Homo sapiens: one gene and its partners. The protein of the gene in region 1 purifies or fractionates together with the protein of each later gene. This does not show direct contact. Each region holds a gene or a part of one and is shown on either strand. Other genes may lie near its edges.

The links.
Region 2: the proteins of SLC4A11 (region 1) and TMEM33 purify together in Homo sapiens (affinity purification with mass spectrometry; one large-scale study listed by BioGRID and IntAct). This does not show direct contact.
Region 3: the proteins of SLC4A11 (region 1) and THEM6 purify together in Homo sapiens (affinity purification with mass spectrometry; one large-scale study listed by BioGRID and IntAct). This does not show direct contact.

What each region holds. Positions count from the first base shown.
Region 1 is NC_000020.11:3,235,916-3,241,282, forward strand, and holds the start of SLC4A11 (solute carrier family 4 member 11), read right to left. Parts: upstream 3,276-5,367; 5' UTR 3,223-3,275; coding exon 3,180-3,222; exon of another isoform or gene 3,065-3,179; intron 2,949-3,064; exon of another isoform or gene 2,930-2,948; intron 2,835-2,929; exon of another isoform or gene 2,633-2,834; intron 2,275-2,632; exon of another isoform or gene 2,150-2,274; coding exon of another isoform or gene 1,978-2,149; exon of another isoform or gene 1,765-1,977; coding exon of another isoform or gene 1,674-1,764; coding exon 1,629-1,673; intron 1-1,628. UniProt on the Homo sapiens protein: Multifunctional transporter with an impact in cell morphology and differentiation. In the presence of borate B(OH)4(-), acts as a voltage-dependent electrogenic Na(+)-coupled B(OH)4(-) cotransporter controlling boron homeostasis.
Region 2 is NC_000004.12:41,933,709-41,938,929, reverse strand, and holds the start of TMEM33 (transmembrane protein 33), read right to left. Parts: upstream 3,502-5,221; 5' UTR 3,446-3,501; coding exon 3,401-3,445; intron 329-3,400; coding exon 234-328; intron 1-233. UniProt on the Homo sapiens protein: Acts as a regulator of the tubular endoplasmic reticulum (ER) network by modulating intracellular calcium homeostasis. Mechanistically, stimulates PKD2 calcium-dependent activity. Suppresses the RTN3/4-induced formation of the ER tubules.
Region 3 is NC_000008.11:142,733,144-142,737,923, reverse strand, and holds the end of THEM6 (protein THEM6), read right to left. Parts: intron 2,599-4,780; coding exon 2,485-2,598; 3' UTR 997-2,484; downstream 1-996.

The DNA.
Region 1 (5,367 bases):
TCCTCCAGGAAGTCCTCCTAGATCCCTGCCTCACCCCTGGCCACTGGCAGCCCTTCCTGTCTTGTGGGTCCCCTAAGGTTCCTCACTTGTAGGTACTCCCAGGAAAGGGGCCCTTATAGCCCAGACCCCACTGATGCCTGACAGACACCTGTGCAGAAACAAGGATGGGTCAGCAGCACGCCTGCACCTGCCAGGGAGTGACTCACCCTGACTCACTTCTACTCCCGCCGCCAGTTTCCTTGGCACATCCCAGGCCCTGTTCCCCCAGTGTCCTGAGTTTAGCCTGGGCCCCTTCTGGGTAGGAAGCCCTAGTGCCTCCTGCATCAAAGTCCCCAGGGACTGGTGACTCCCAGGCCCAGGCCTGCACTACCTCCAGAGCCCAGAGAAGAAATATTAGGTCAAAAGACATCCTTGCCTTTGGGAGGCCAAGGCAGGCGGATCACGAGGTCAGGAGATCGAGACCATCCTGGCTAACAATGGCTAACATGGTGAAACCCTGTCTCTACTAAAAATACAAAAAGAAATTAGCCGGGTGTGGTGGCGGGCGCCTGTAGTCCCAGCTACTCGGGAGGCTGAGGCAGGAGGCTGGTGTGAACCCAGGAGGCAGAGCTTGCAGTGAGCCGAGATCACACCACTGCACTCCAGCCTGGGCGACAGAGCGAGACTCAAAACAAAACAAAACAAAACAAAACAAAACAAAAGACGTCCTCACTGCTTTGGTTCTGGAGCTCATGATAAACTCCTTCCTCCCCGGGTCAGGCTTGCCTTGTTTAAACTGTCTGGTTCCCCTGGCCCGAACTTGTCCCAGCCTCCCCTCTGCCCCTCAACCAGCACCCACTAGTCCCCTCCACTGCCCTTCACACAGCCCCGTTCTTCCCCCATTCTTCCCCTGATGCCCTCAGCTCTACCTTAGACTTAGTGCTCAGGTCCCCTAGATTAAGGACCTGCCCAGCTGACACTACCAGGTTCCTGGGGGGCTCCTGCAATGCCAAGTCCTAGTCCCAGCCCCATACGTAACCTGCCCACCAGCAGCCTAGCACACAGAGCCCCATGTCCTGAGGGCTCTGGGTAAGGGAACATCAGCCCTGTGTCTACGCACTGCTCTACAAACAACCCTCGAATGGTCAGGTCACTCATGGGGCTAGGCACAGGACACAGCCTGAAGCCAGCCCAGAGACATGAGGAGGAAGACAGCTGGACTGGTACAAGCAGGGACAGCAGGAAGGTGCCCGAGGGACTGCAGCACAGAGGCCTTATATTTCTTTAAAGAGACAACGACAGATATTCCCTCCAGGGCTGGGTGAGGACAGAGGGACAGGGGCACACAGAATTCTTGGCCCAAGGCTAGTCAGATAACAGGCCATTGTCACAGAAAACCTTGGGTAAGAATCCCAGAGGGTTCACCTGGTCCAAGTAGCCCAGGAGAATGGGCAGCCTGCCCTCTCAGGTCCACGGGGGATCCGCCCATGTCTAGCTTCCCGAAGAGTGGAAGCCAAAAGCATTCCAGCACTAGAGTGGCCCAGATAGGCGAGCAAAGCCACAGGACTCTGGTGGGTAGGCTATGCACCCTGGAGGCTTTTGCCCGACAAGCTCTCTCTGCACACACACACTCCCCGAGAGGTACTCACTTGAATCCTCGAAGTATCCATTCTGCGACATGGTGGGAGAGTTTTCTGCAAGGGAAGCAGAAAGGTCACCAGCCCCATGGACCAAGCCCTGGACCTCCTGTGTGCACCTGTCTCCCCGCCCCCCGACCTGGCTCATTCCTTCGCTCTTCCGAGGGATGCAACCCACGCCACCCTAGGGAGAAAGGGAAGCAGGGGACAGTGCTCGGGAGGGGGCCCCATAGCAGGGGAAGCCAGCCTTAATCTCAGAAATTCAATTGCTTAGCCCATCTGCTAGGGGCTGCCCAGGCGGGCCAGAGGCGAGGAGGAGAGACGTTCCAGGGATGTCTTCCCACCGAGTTAGTACCAGTACCATGTTCGCTAATCCAGGTTTTCCTGAGAAAACCCTGCCCCGCTGCAGCGAGAGGAAGGGACCGGGCCCGAGCGGGCCTCTCCCCCTCTCTCCTCGGATGCCAAGGCGGGGGATCTCTCTGCACATCCCTCTTCTCACTCTCAGACCGGTCCTGGGGGCCATAAACGCCCATTGCAGGCGCAGTTCCCCCGACCCCCGTCACGCGCCCCGGGTCACACGGGGGCCGACAGGCAACGGTCTCCAGTCCTGGGACCGCGTCCCGGCCGCCTGGAAGCCAGAGCCGTTGGTCCAAAAGGGAGAACAATTGGGGGTGGGAGGAGTATCTGAGGGACACATGGGTCGGGGGAGGCTGCGCCCTCCCTGGGCCGGTCCCCGGATGGTCCCGGCTGTTTGTGCCTCGCTGTCGGAGGAAGGAAGCGACAGGAGGGGCCGCGTGCACGAGAGGAAAGCGCCTCCAGACTCGGAGACCCCGGGGGTCGGGGCGCAGGATGTGAATGCAGGCGCGGGGCGGGAGCCGGGGCTGCATCCTGAAGTGGGGGGCGGGGGCGCTGGGGCGCGTCCCAGGCCGTGGGCGACGAGGGTCTGGGAGGGTTGGGCCGGTGCACACTCCGCTTCCGTCCCGGCGGCCCACGTGCAGGTAAAGGGTCGTACAAACCTGGGTCCTGGCGGGGACCCAGGGCTGGCCCTCCCGTGTCAGAGCAAGGGAGAAACCGCTGCGGCCGCGCAGGGCACGGTCAGGGGTCCCGGGACTCCCAAAACTCCAGGGGTTCCGGGGCTCCCACCGCGGCGCCGGACGGGAAGATGCCCGGGCGGAAGGTAAAATGAGACCTTCCGAGGCGGCGGCCCGCCAGGCTCCCAAAAGCTCGGCGCTCGGGGCGCTGGGAGCCCCACAGCTCCGCCCTGCCCACTTTCGAGCTCCCCGCCCTCGACCCGCTGCATCAGCTGTTCAAACCTGGTAAGAAATTCAAGACGGCGACAGCAGAGCCCTAATGAAACCAAGCGCGCGGTGGCCGCGAAGCCGCGCCCGGGCCTCCCGCACCCGCGCCCTCCTCCCCGCGGCTGGGAATCCCGCAGCCCTCTCGCCCACCGGCCCCGGCCCGCGCAGGCAGACGGCATCCGCGTTCTCCCCGGGGTCCCCGACGGGAGACGGTGGCGGAGACCCGGGCGGCCTTCCCGCCGCGCCCCCGGGTTCAGGCACCCACCGCACGGCTGCAGATGGAACACGCGCCTGGTGGCCGCGGCCATGGCACACTCGCGCACTCACGGCCGGGCTCCTCACGCGGCGCTCCGGCGCTTCTGGACCCCAAACTCGGCGACTCGGGCGGGCCGGCGGCGGGAGCCGGCGACACACCCCCACGCCGCGCCTGGGTCCTAATGCCGCTCAGACGCCGCGCCCGGGCGCGGTAGGCAGAGCTGCCGAGGGCTGGGACCCGGCCGCCCGCCCCGCGCCCTCACCCGCGGGAGGCTGCTCCAGCCGGGCTGGGCTGCTCCCCGCCGCCCGCAGCTGCTGGGCCAAACCGAGTAGACCCGGCTCCTTCGAGCCTGTGCGCGCCGGACCCAGCAGACCCAGCGTCGCGAGTTTAGGGGCTGGACGGGGCCGGGGAGCTTCTGGGAAAACGTTCGACTGCGCCACGAGCCCACCGAGCTGTGCGACTGAGGCAGACCCCGGGAGGGCTTCCCCCGCGTCCGCTTTAAGTACGCGGCCGGCCCCTGTCTCCTCCTTTCGACCGGGGACCTCCGCAGGGCCACGCCCGCTGGCTGCCCCGCCTCCTGCATTTATCCCGGTAGCTCCGGCCGCAAGTCCTTCTCCTCCTCCTCCAGGAAGCGCGCCCCGACTGACTAGACGGACCTCCGTGCATTCCCCGGGCTACGCCCTCGCCCGCTGAGACGGCGCTCTCCGAGCTCGGCTGCTTTGGGTTTTCGCTGCGAGCCTCGCCAACTTATCTGCCAGCCTCTTCACGTCCTCGGCCTTCTATGAGGTCAAGGTCATGGTTCGCCCCCTTTTTCCTTCCCCAAATGGCCCTTGCGCCCTGTCCCCTTTCCTGGACCGGCTGCGACCCGCCCGGGGACGCGCCTTTTCGGGGCGCTTAGTCTCCTGCGAGTAGGGCGTGTGCGCGTGTGGGTGCGCGTGCTGCGATGCGATCCGGCAAATGCAGCTGACGAACCCCTGGCCTGATCCACGGTGGCTCCCAGTAGAAGGCTCTACAGCCCTTGGAAACGGAACACGCAGCTCCGTAAAGCGCTAACCAACCTCCCGACCCCTCCGGCCGCCATCGCTTTCCGGCTCAGCCGCGCTGGGACGGAGTCCTCGGCCACTGTGCCCTAACCATGGTAGAGGAACGGGGACAGGCCGGGGCAAGCCCACCTCTGCGAAGGAAGGGCTTCTGGCGCGTTGGGGAAGCCTCATGCATAGATTGGGTGAGTAAGGCTGGCCCAGTTCTCCTCCCGGCAAGATAAGAACGCATTAGGAGGGAAGCGCTGGAGTGCTCCTCTTGGCGACGGATGGCCTGGGGCTCTGCGACAGACTGAGTACCCCACCCTCCCCCAGCGCGACTCCAGGAGGCCTTGTGGAAGATCCCAACACCATGACCTGCAACTGACTTGGGGCTGGCCACATAGTATTTTAGCAGGGGTGACTCTGGAGAGACACCAGGTCATCCTGCGCACCCCTTGGGACCTTTCCTAGACGCCCTCCAGCTAGAGCTCCAGTCCAGGCACTGACTCCCGGGTGGCGGGTGGAGGCTGAGGAAGAGCTGAAGGACACAGGCGGATGTCGCCCCCGGAGCATGGCTGCATAGGTGGCATGCAGGCTGGATCCCTGAAAAGCCACCTTGCCACCCCCAGTCTCCCCCATCTGGGAATGCCTTGGCTTCTGCACCTGCTCCCAGCAGCTCCCAAACACCTGGTCCTTCCAACCCACTTGTTCCAGGAAAGCCTCTGGGATGGAGGGCGCTTCCCCTTACCACAGTCTCCTCAGCGCTCCTCAAAGGACCTAACCCCTCAGCCCACTGAGGAAAGAGGAGCCCATGACCAAGCCGCCCCTAGTCGGCTATGGGCCCCCTCTGTCCGCTCCCTGACCGTCTCTCAAAGGAACTGGCACTGAGCCCTTCTCTGCTACACCTGTGCTCTGCCCCTGCGGTTCTGTTCCCTCGGCCTTCCTGGAGGGAACCCCTGAGGCCCACACGCCTGCTGCCTCCAGACTGACCGTTTCAGAGGCTGTTTCCTTCAGTCCTCCCACCTGCCTCCTGTCCTGTGTAGATCGTCTGACGCTGAAGGCAAATACTGGTGCCCCAGATCTCCTGTCCTGTGCCCCACTGGGTCCTTACATAGGCAGGCAGGTTGAGGGACCCAGACGCAGGCACCCACTTTCCCTCTCATTCCCTCCCTTGG
Region 2 (5,221 bases), on another chromosome or scaffold:
CATTCCCACACATCAATTTTTCCTTGGATTTTCAATGTGTTAGTTTCACAAAGCACAAGATATAAAATATTCCTCTGATAATGTTATTAGGTTGTTAGTACCTGAAGGCTGGAACTTGTATTTTATTTGTCCCTAAACCCTTTACAGGTTAATAAGTCTTACACCTAAAAGGCACTCCATATAAACTGACTCAACAATTGAATATCAAAGGCAGCAATATGTATAATACATACCCAAGAAGAGGCAGAACAAACAGAGCAGAGCAGTAAACTGTGAACAAGCGAGAAAGCCACATTGCCGTGTCCAGTTTATTGGTCATCATGAATTGCTAAATTTAAAAAGAAAAATACTGTAAGCTATGCCTGCAAATCATGTTTTTAAGCATCAAGACTGTGTGGTTTTTATGTCTACTCAAAATATTTTAATCTTCCTCCATTTGTTTTTTTAGATCATTAGGTGAAAACTCTAAGGCAATTACATGTTTCATGTATATGCTTAATGAGAAGTCCAAACACCTTATAGTTTTCATGTGGAAAGCACAAGAAGTACTTAAACAGAAATAAATAGAAAAATATCAGCTGACATTTTAAAAAAATGCAAAGACTAATTAATTAGAAAAAATAATCTTAACAGAAATTCAACTACAATTGTCTGTGTTCCTTTAACACTTGCAATATTGGCTTCATCTATTTTAAAAGAACATTAAACAAAAACTAATTGCTCTCAAGAGATCCATATGCCTATTCTTAGCAAAAAATCTCAAATCCGAATAGGTAGGTCTCAGAGCTGAGTAAAACATCACATAAAGCCAGTTGGGATTAAAGAAACCTTTTGAAGAAGAAATATAAAACCATGATAGTAGTAACAACTAAACTCATTCGCCTTGTAATCTGCCTACATGCACAAGGGCCTGGCATACTCTAGGTGCTCAAAATGTGGCTGACAGGTATTAAATGGCCACCTGCCTCTCTGATTACACCACTCTCTTTATCACCTCCATGTTCCCCCACAAGTCTTACCCTAGTTTCGGTGGTCCTAGATTAAACTTTCCTATACCATTTTCTTCCCCCATTTTTTTCCCATTCTATCTTTCCTTTGCTGCTTTCCCCCCAATACTTATGTCTATTACCACTAAAGCAGAATCTTAAAATGTGTTTTCTCATTAAAATGTATCTTATATTCAAAAGTGGCTTTTACATTTTTTGTCTAGGATCTTCGTAATTTTAACATTGAGATCCATATACATGGATATATAAACAAAAGTTTCACAAATATTTACCCTACTGTATATAATGGATTTTGACATTTTCTATTTAATTTTTTAAAAATAGCTGGTGTTTACACTAAACTGACTTCTCAACTCACTAATGGGTCTACCTGAAGTCTAAAAACACTGCTCTATGTAATTTAATTTCATTATCTTTTGAAAAAAAAATATAAAAAATTTGAGGGAAAAATCCAAGTACATTGTAAAATTCCAGGCTGTTTTATTTTATGTCTTTTTAACCCACATGTAGGTAATTTCAGAAATATGAAATACAACTTTGATTTATCATTAAATCCAGACTTACCGTACTGTGACTCCAATAAACTGAAATGATTAGCAGTAATCAAGTGAAGGATGAATCCAGCTTACTGTGCTCAGTTTCTCAACAAATATTATGACTGGGCACCACAGCTTGAAAGTTAGTTTTAGAACATTCTCCTTAAAATCTATTTGTTCAGGTTGTTTATTCTGCAATAAATCATTGAGCTATGCGTTTCATTTTGTACACACTTATGTATATTATACAATTTTAAAAGTTTAAGAAAGTCTATTGGTATACATTTTTTAAGAGTAAACTGTCCAACCATCAGGCAAAAAAAAAAAAAAATCACTAGATCTTTGGGTGAAAAATTGTTGAGGAGCAATATTCACACAGTGTCACAGTATCATGCCAAAGAACACTTTTTAATTAGAAAGGAAAAAAGGTATCTTTACAATGGAGAAACTGGTGGACACCACCTTAATCAAATAATCAAACAAATTCTGCAATGATGGGATAAATCAATGTAAAATGCTTCCTGATATATAATATAGATATACATATTAGATGTACCTATATATGCTGCAAAACATGTCTGGACTCTTGAAAACTATCAGTATCTTAAAAGACAAAAAAGGGGAGGAGAGGGCAGAACTGTTCTAGATTAAAAGGCAGTAAACAAGATATGGCCAGTAAATTGAATGCATGCTTTCTGAGATAGGGTCTCGCTCTGTCACCCCAGGCTGGAGCGCAAAAGCACAACCCACCTCAGCCTCCTGAGTAGCTGGGACTATGCTGGGACTATAGGAGCGCACCTCCACGACCGGCTAATTTATGTTTGTTTGTTTGTTTGTTTGTTTTGAGAGAAGGTTTTGCTCTATCACCCAGGCTGGAGTGCAGTGGCGCGATCTTGGCTCACGGCAGCTTCAACTTCTCGGGCGCAAGCGATCCACCCGCCTTGGCCTCCCAAAGTGCTGAGATTACAGGCGTGAGCCACCACGCCCCGCCTAATTTCTTTGATTTCTAGTAGAGATGAGGTCTCGCTATGTTTCCAAGGCTGGTCTCTAACTCCTGAACTCAAGCGATCCTCCCGCCTTGGACTCCCAAAGTTCTGGGCTTACAGGAGTGAGCCACTGCGCCAGCCCATCGATGCATGCTTTTTGACAGAATCCCAGATGAAGAGAAAGCAGCTTTAAAGGACAATTATGGAAATTTGCACATGGATTTTATATTAGGTAATATTTCCCAAATGTGGTAACTGCATTGTGGTCACACAGAATAATACTTAACTACTTATGGATTAAAAAGTAGAGGACAGCAATGCTCCGGGCACAAATAACTTGTTAGCTCCAGATCAGCATCTTAAAAAAATTACAAAAGCATAATGATATTTCTCTTCATAAAGAACAAAGTGAAGAAGAAAAAGACCACCGCTCTCCTCCCTTTGCATAATTTCTATATACGATTGTATAAACTAGGCAGAAACGTTCTTTGCCGGCACTCGTGTGCTCCACGTGGTGTGTGTCATGGATCATGTGTGTCATGGCACAATCTCATGCGGCATCTTTAACCTTGGGGCCTACGGTAAACAAAAGACCGAGGTGGGAGAAGAGGAAAGAAGGCCCAATTTCCATGGCATACAGGTGGGGGCCACCAGCTCCAGGTCAGCCTATTGTCGCTTCAGAAACAAACTTGTAGTTCCCTCCATATCTTCGCTCAGGACCTCCCCTCTCCCCGCTCCAACTTCCCCACCCCAACTCATTAATCCCATTCCTGAATGCACTGAGCTTCTGGAACGCCTCGGGACTCGCAACGCTTCCTGCTTCTTCCTAACTCTTGCAAATCAAGCCAGACTACCCTGCCCTCGCACTTACCACAGCGCCCGCCCCTTGGGGGCCGTTCGGGGTCGTATCTGCCATGGGGGCTCACACTAGCGTCTGCGACGCCGCAACCGCGAAGAGAGAAGAAAGGGGAGAGAAAACGTCAGCGCTGGGGCCAGGACCCGGGTACCGGCTTCCCTGCCTCGCGCCACACACAGGCCGGATGCACCCTGCCGGAACTCTGAGCCTCCACCAGGGAAGGGTCTCGCTCGCCTGGTGCAGCCGACTGGATCCAGGGCACCCGCAGCAGCCGGGAGGTACCTGTCCCGCACCGCCGAGATCAAAGCGGTGTTTCCAGAAAGACGGGAGCGAAGGTGGAGCTTCGGGGTGAAGCCCTAAAGAGCCAACCTACGCCGCCGGCTCCAGGTTATTGCCGAACCCGGAAGTGCTCCTTTCATTTCCGTGGGGAAGAGGCGGTGACAAAGAGGGGGAAACGGGAGCGGTGCCCAGAGGCATGACGGGAAGTGTGGTTTTTTTCTCCTAATTTGAGCCCCACCTGTCCTTCCGCCGATTGGCCCAGTGAGCTAAGAAATCAGGATGGGGGAGCAACTTTTGCATTAAATACAGCTCACAAATGATCTTTCCTGCCCATTCTCAAACCATGAAATTTCCGCACTTCCTGATATAGAGGCCTCAGAAACATCTTTGATTCCTTTCTCCAGGGGCTTACTAAGCCCGTTGGTTCTACGTCTATTATTAATTCTTTCAATAAGTATTTATGAGGCCTGCTATGTGACAGGCTCCATACTTGGCACGGCGGATAAAAAGAGGAATATGACACAGATTGCAAAAGAGAAACAAGTAAACGGAAATCAGAGCATAGTGATTGTGTAATATGTGTAGAGGCTGATTTAATCACAGGGAGCACAGAGGACGGTACCTAAATCAGAAGGGATCTGGGGAGGTTTCCTGGAAAAGGTAAGTCCGGGCCTTGATCTTGAACGACAAAAAGTTGGCTGAAAGTGTTACTGGTGTAGGGTGTCCAAGTTCTTGGCGTTTTGAACATAGAATTGGACAAAACGCACAAAGCAAGGAAAGAATAAAGCAACAAAAGCAGAGATTTGTTGAAAATGAAAGTACACTCCAGAGTGTGGGAGAGTGAGACAGCAGCTCAAGGGCCCTGGATACAGAGTCTTCTCGGGTCCAAATACCCCCTAGAGGTTTCCCATTGGCCACTTGGAGTTCACTTCATGTAAATGAAGTGGTGGCCCGCAATCAGTCTGAATGGTTGCGCAAAGCAACCAATCAGAGGCTGAAGAAGTTACAAAGTTACACTTCTATGCAAACGTCTGATTGGTTACAAAAAGCAACCAATCAGAGGTACTTTCAATTTCCCAAATCTGCGCAGAACAGGTTGGGGCTTGCAAAGGGAGTAGTATCTGGCCCTTTATTCACTTAAGCGTGGACAGTAAGGATTTTCCTTCAATTTAGTTCTAGGAAGTCAGCGAGAAAGGGCATTAGGTTCCCTACCGCCATACCATATTCTTCTGCCTTAAAACGGGAAGGGAACTCCATACAGAGTAACAGAAAGTGCAAGAAGTAACAGGACAGCGAGAGGACTAGTTGAGTGTGACCAGAATGATGGTACCAGTCAGGGGATTGTGAAAGATTTGCGCTAGAGAGGCAGGCAGGGGTGTACTGAGGAAAGGATCTGAACTTGACCCTGAAATCCAGAGAACCATGGAACAATTTTAATCAGAAGTGTGACATCCTGAGATTTAGAAAGTTCTCTCTGGCAACAGGGTGGAGGATGAACAGAGGGGCAAATTAAAAGTCAGGAAATTCGTTGTGAAGCCATTTATATATATATAAACT
Region 3 (4,780 bases), on another chromosome or scaffold:
GTGCCTTCCACGACCCAGAGGTAGCTGCTGAGCCAGGGACCGCAGTGGCATCATCACATGGTGCCCTCCCAAGGCCCAGGCACCCTGTCCTGTGGCCCCCGCCCTGCTCCAGGGCTCAGGCAGATGGTCAGGACCATCAGCTGGACGGCATCCCTACAGCTTCATCTGCAGCCCCACTGGGAAGCTTGTCTGGCAACACTCAGCTCACACACCTGTGGCGACCCCACGAGCCACCTCCCCCAAGGACCCCAGAGAAAGCACAGAGGCTTCTGGCCAACCAGTCTGGCTACAGACCCCAGATTTGCTGAGCAAGTTTGCTTCCCCTCCCCAGCCCTACTGCCCCATCACTAAATGCCGGTTTCATAGCTGTTTCCAACTGCCCACTCCTTCCCTGGCCCTCAGAGCCTTCTGGACCCTCCCAGGAAGGTGGTCACAGCATGGACGTGGCCACACCCCGCCTCACTCAACTTTATGTCCCGGAGGGTCCCACTTCTCCCCACCCCTTTTGAAGGGCCTGCAGAACAGCCCCCATGCTCTCTCTGCCTCCTGTCCACCCACCAGTCCATTGACCTCTGCCCCCAATGGCTACCAGCACCCTGCCCGAGGCTCTGGGAGCCTGGAGGGCCAGACCCAGAGTCTGAGGCATGACCGCCAGGGTAATCCCTGAAGGAGGGAAACCGGGAACCTGGCGCTGGCATCTGTAGATGGGGCTGCAAGCCTCGAGAGCTGGGAACCAGGAGGGCCGGAGCAGGAAGGGCTGGCTCCCCAGGGGGCTTTGGACAGCACCTTCTTGGCCTCAGTCCTATGCCCCATGGGATGAGGACAAGCCCTGCCCTGCCAGCCTGATCCCTAAGTTCACGGGAGCCCAACAAACCTGGATAGCCCCCCATGCCAGACACCCATCTTGGGAATGTGCCCCAGCTTCCCTGGTCCCACCTCCGCCCCTGCATGGATGGTGGTGGTGGTAGCTCAGAAACAAGGCCCTCCCCAGCACGCTTGCAATGAAAACCCTTTAATGTTGGGCTTTCTTTAAATAAAACAGAAAGGTTGCAGCTTTCCCATGGTGGCTGTAAGGCAAGAACAGCAGTGAGGGCGGGCGTGTTCTATCGGGCAGTGCTGCAGCCCTTGACTCTGGCTCAAGGTGGGCTTCCTGGAGGCAGCGGCAAGGAGGCAGTTCTGGATGTGCAGGCACAGATGTAGGGGAACAGGCAAGCGGGCACAGGGCCCTGAGCTGACAAGCAGTGACCCCTGCACCCAGCTAGATGGGGCACCCCCTCTCTGGGAGCTGAGGGCATCAGCTGGAGCCTCAGGCTGGGACCAGCCCCAACTTTGCCTTGGTGACTCTGGGCCATTCCAGGCCTCAGTTTCCCCAGCTGTAAGGTGAGGCATTAGGCAGGAGGGGGTGGCCCCAGCCAGTGTCCTAGTAGCCTGGTGTCTCCATTAGGGAGACCTGAGAAGCTGCCAGGAGAGGCTCTGCTAGCGCAAGGCAGGGCCGGCCCAGCAGCTGACAAGGAACATGCTGAATATAGAGGACAGAGGAGTTAAGAAGACGCCTGCCGGCCAGGCCAGAGAGGGGCAGCTCTAAGGGGGTACAGCGGCCTGTGGTGCTGTAGGCCCAGAAAGGGTGGGGATCAGCCCAAGTCACAGAGCATGGCCCTGGTGGGCGGCGAGGGGTGCGAGTGGACAAGGACACCCCTGCAGAGTCCCACCCCCACTCTATTCCCTCCAACAAGGGAACGCCCAGCAGGAAGCCTGCTGTCTTTCCAGGAGCCCCTGTGCCACCTAGTCTGACCCCTCTCAGCCACAAGGCTACCCTCCCGTCCAGCCTGACTGGAGGTAGAGGAGGAGGAGGAGGCAAGGCCGACTGCAGTGGGGAGCCCGGGTGCCCCGTCCTCTGTCAGCAAATGCCTCCCTTCCATCTGCCTCTAGCCCCGGCCTCTGACCACCCAGGCTCTGCCCCAGGCCTGCAACCACCTCAGCGGAAGCCAGAGGGGCTGCCTGGCAGATGCCGCTCTGACCCTTCAGGAGTGCCCACTGCACCTGAATCAGGCCCAGGCCCTGGAGAGCCCAGGCCTGTACCCAGGATGCTCTGGTCTGGCCCTGCCTCGGCCCTTGCAGTGGTCCGAGCCAGGATCTAGGCTCGGGAGGCACTTGTGGGTCCCTCTGCTCCAGGCACCATCCTCCCCTACCTAGGCCCACATGAGTGGCCTCATCGTAGGGCCAGGCAGGACTCTCCTTTGCCCATCCATCCCCACCTTGAGGGCAGAGCTGGGTCAGGATGCCAATGCCACTCCTCCTTCTGCCTAGCGTGGAGCCCAGCACAGAGGGGTATCAATAACTGGGGGGGCCCAGTGGGTGGAGCAGGGTGGGCCAGGCTGGTCAGGAGGCTACTCCAGCTGGAACAGAGTATGGCTGAGACTGCCCATCTGTGGGCAGCCCCCAGGCCCAGGATGGTGGCCAGGGCAGACGGTGTGAAGGTGGCGGTCACTGGTCCTTGGTGACATCACTGAGCCCACTCTCCATGCGGAGCAGCTGGCTGCTGGCCTCGTTGTAGGAGATCCAGTGCTGCAGATCAGCGGGCAGCTCAGGGGGCTCCACCTGCAGAGGACAGAAAGGGGACACCCAGCTAAGCTACGGCCTTCCCACCTCTGGGCCGCTGCCCACACTGCTCCCCAGCCCGTGACCTTCCAAGATCCCCTGCCCCGCCGCCTGCCATGCTTTGCCCATGCCTCCCCAGGCTCTGCACACTTGTGCTACCCCTGCATACCCACCTTGACACAGCCCCGCTTGTGCCTGGCCCGTCTCCCCTAGGGGCCATCCCCAGAACCCAGCCAGAAACCCGTGAAGTTGGCAGGTTGGGAAGGGCAGAGAGGAAATCCAGAGGCCTCAGGGTGACAGGGGACAGAGGGGTGGAGGGCCAGCATGGGAGCCCTCCTCCAGGAAAGTACCAGACAGGGCTCACTGAGTTCTCTTCTTTCTCCAGGGCACCCAGAGGATGGCACTTCATCCCCCAGGGCAGCCTGGGCCTGACCACTCCACTATCAACCCTCTCCACACACACAGCCACCATGTGGCAATGGGAGCCAGGCTCCAGGCCACTCCTGAGGGGTCCACAGCCTTGCAGATGGGCATTGGGAGCTCCCAGGATGAGGGGACAGGCCAGGCACAGGCCCACCCCCACTTCAGGGTGAGCAGCACACAGAGGTGCTCAGAGATAAAGCCCAGACCTTCCCTGCAGATGAGTCGTGACCCCCATGGCAAGTCCCAGCAGAGCTGGGCCTGGACTCTCCCCTGGACCACTCCCCTCCCCACCTAGTTTCAACCATGTGACCAACACTCACCCCAGCCCAGCTCTTCCTCTTTGGCCACATCACCGCAGGCCAGCCTCTCAACATGCAAGACCCAACCCTGGCTCAGCCTGCCCAAACTGCAGCCGCGGTCTTTCCACATCATCGACAGAGTCTCTGCTGTTCTGGGTCCCAGCCTTCACCTCCCACAGGGACCTCACCAACCAGCCCATGCCTGATTTTATCACTCCCTCTTTCCCAGAAAAGCAACCCTGGCTCCCCATCTCCTCGGCCTCCGTGCCCGGCTCTCAGCCTTGGTGGCCTTTGCCTCTGGACTCTAGATGCATGAAAGACATAGAGTCCAGCACCTGGGGACAGAGAGAGATCTAGGCCTTTTAGGGGGTTCCTGACTGTAAACCAAAAATAACATCGGAAGGTACCCCCAACCATCTGAATGAACTTCCTCCAATAGGCCAGGGCCCTCCACATTTAACCAGAAAGACTAGCCCAGGCCATGATAGAAGAGGGTGTGGGACAGGCCTGTTATGCCCTCCAGCATTAACAACACAGACCTTAAGTCCGACAAGAAACATTTATGATCTATTCCCTCTGAAGCCTGCAGCCTGGAGGCTTCATCTGCATAATAAAACCTAGGTCTCCACAACCAGTATCTTAACCCAGACATGCCTTTCTACTGATAATAGCTCTTTCAACCAACTGCCAATCAGAAAACTTTTACATCTACCATGACCTGAAAGCCCCCCTTCCAGATGGCATCAATGTGAATCTTACATGTACTGACAGATGTATTGTGCCTCCCTGAGATGTATAAAAGCAAGCTGTGCCCCGACCACCTTGGGCACATGTTGTCAGGACTGGTGAGTCCTTATCCTTGGCAAAGTAAACTTTCTAAATTGACTGAGACATATCTCCGATACTTTTTGGTTCACATGACTCAACAGAAACAGAAGACCAGGGAGCCGTGTAGCTTTGTGCAGTGCCATAGCTCCTCTGAGCCTCAGTTTCCCCATTCCTGACATGACCTCTCAGTGTCAGAGGCGCTGGAACCAGAGCGACTCCATTTTGAGTGAGGGCTGGGAAATGAGGCTGGGGCCTGCTGGGCTGCATCCCCAGAAAGAGGCATTCCGAGCCTCTAGATGTTTAGTTGTAAAGTAGAGGTTCCTCTTCAAAGACTTTCCTACCGATCTAATTAGGAATAAATAGTAACTTCTCTTAGAAGCAAAATTTATTCAAAGACCTGTGCTAACATTATTAAATATCTGCTAGCAGTAATAAAGAAAGCAATGTACTACTTTAGGTTCTTAGCTCCCACAATTTAGCCTAAATATTTGCCCTGGCATGCTTATACTGGTCCAAGCGGGCATTAGGTCATAGCCTGTTCCTCTTCCTTATTTGAAGGTGTTTTTACCTTTCTCAGCATTCCACAAATTACTTCCTTCCTTTGTTCTCCTCTGCCTTTGCCTCTTTTAAAA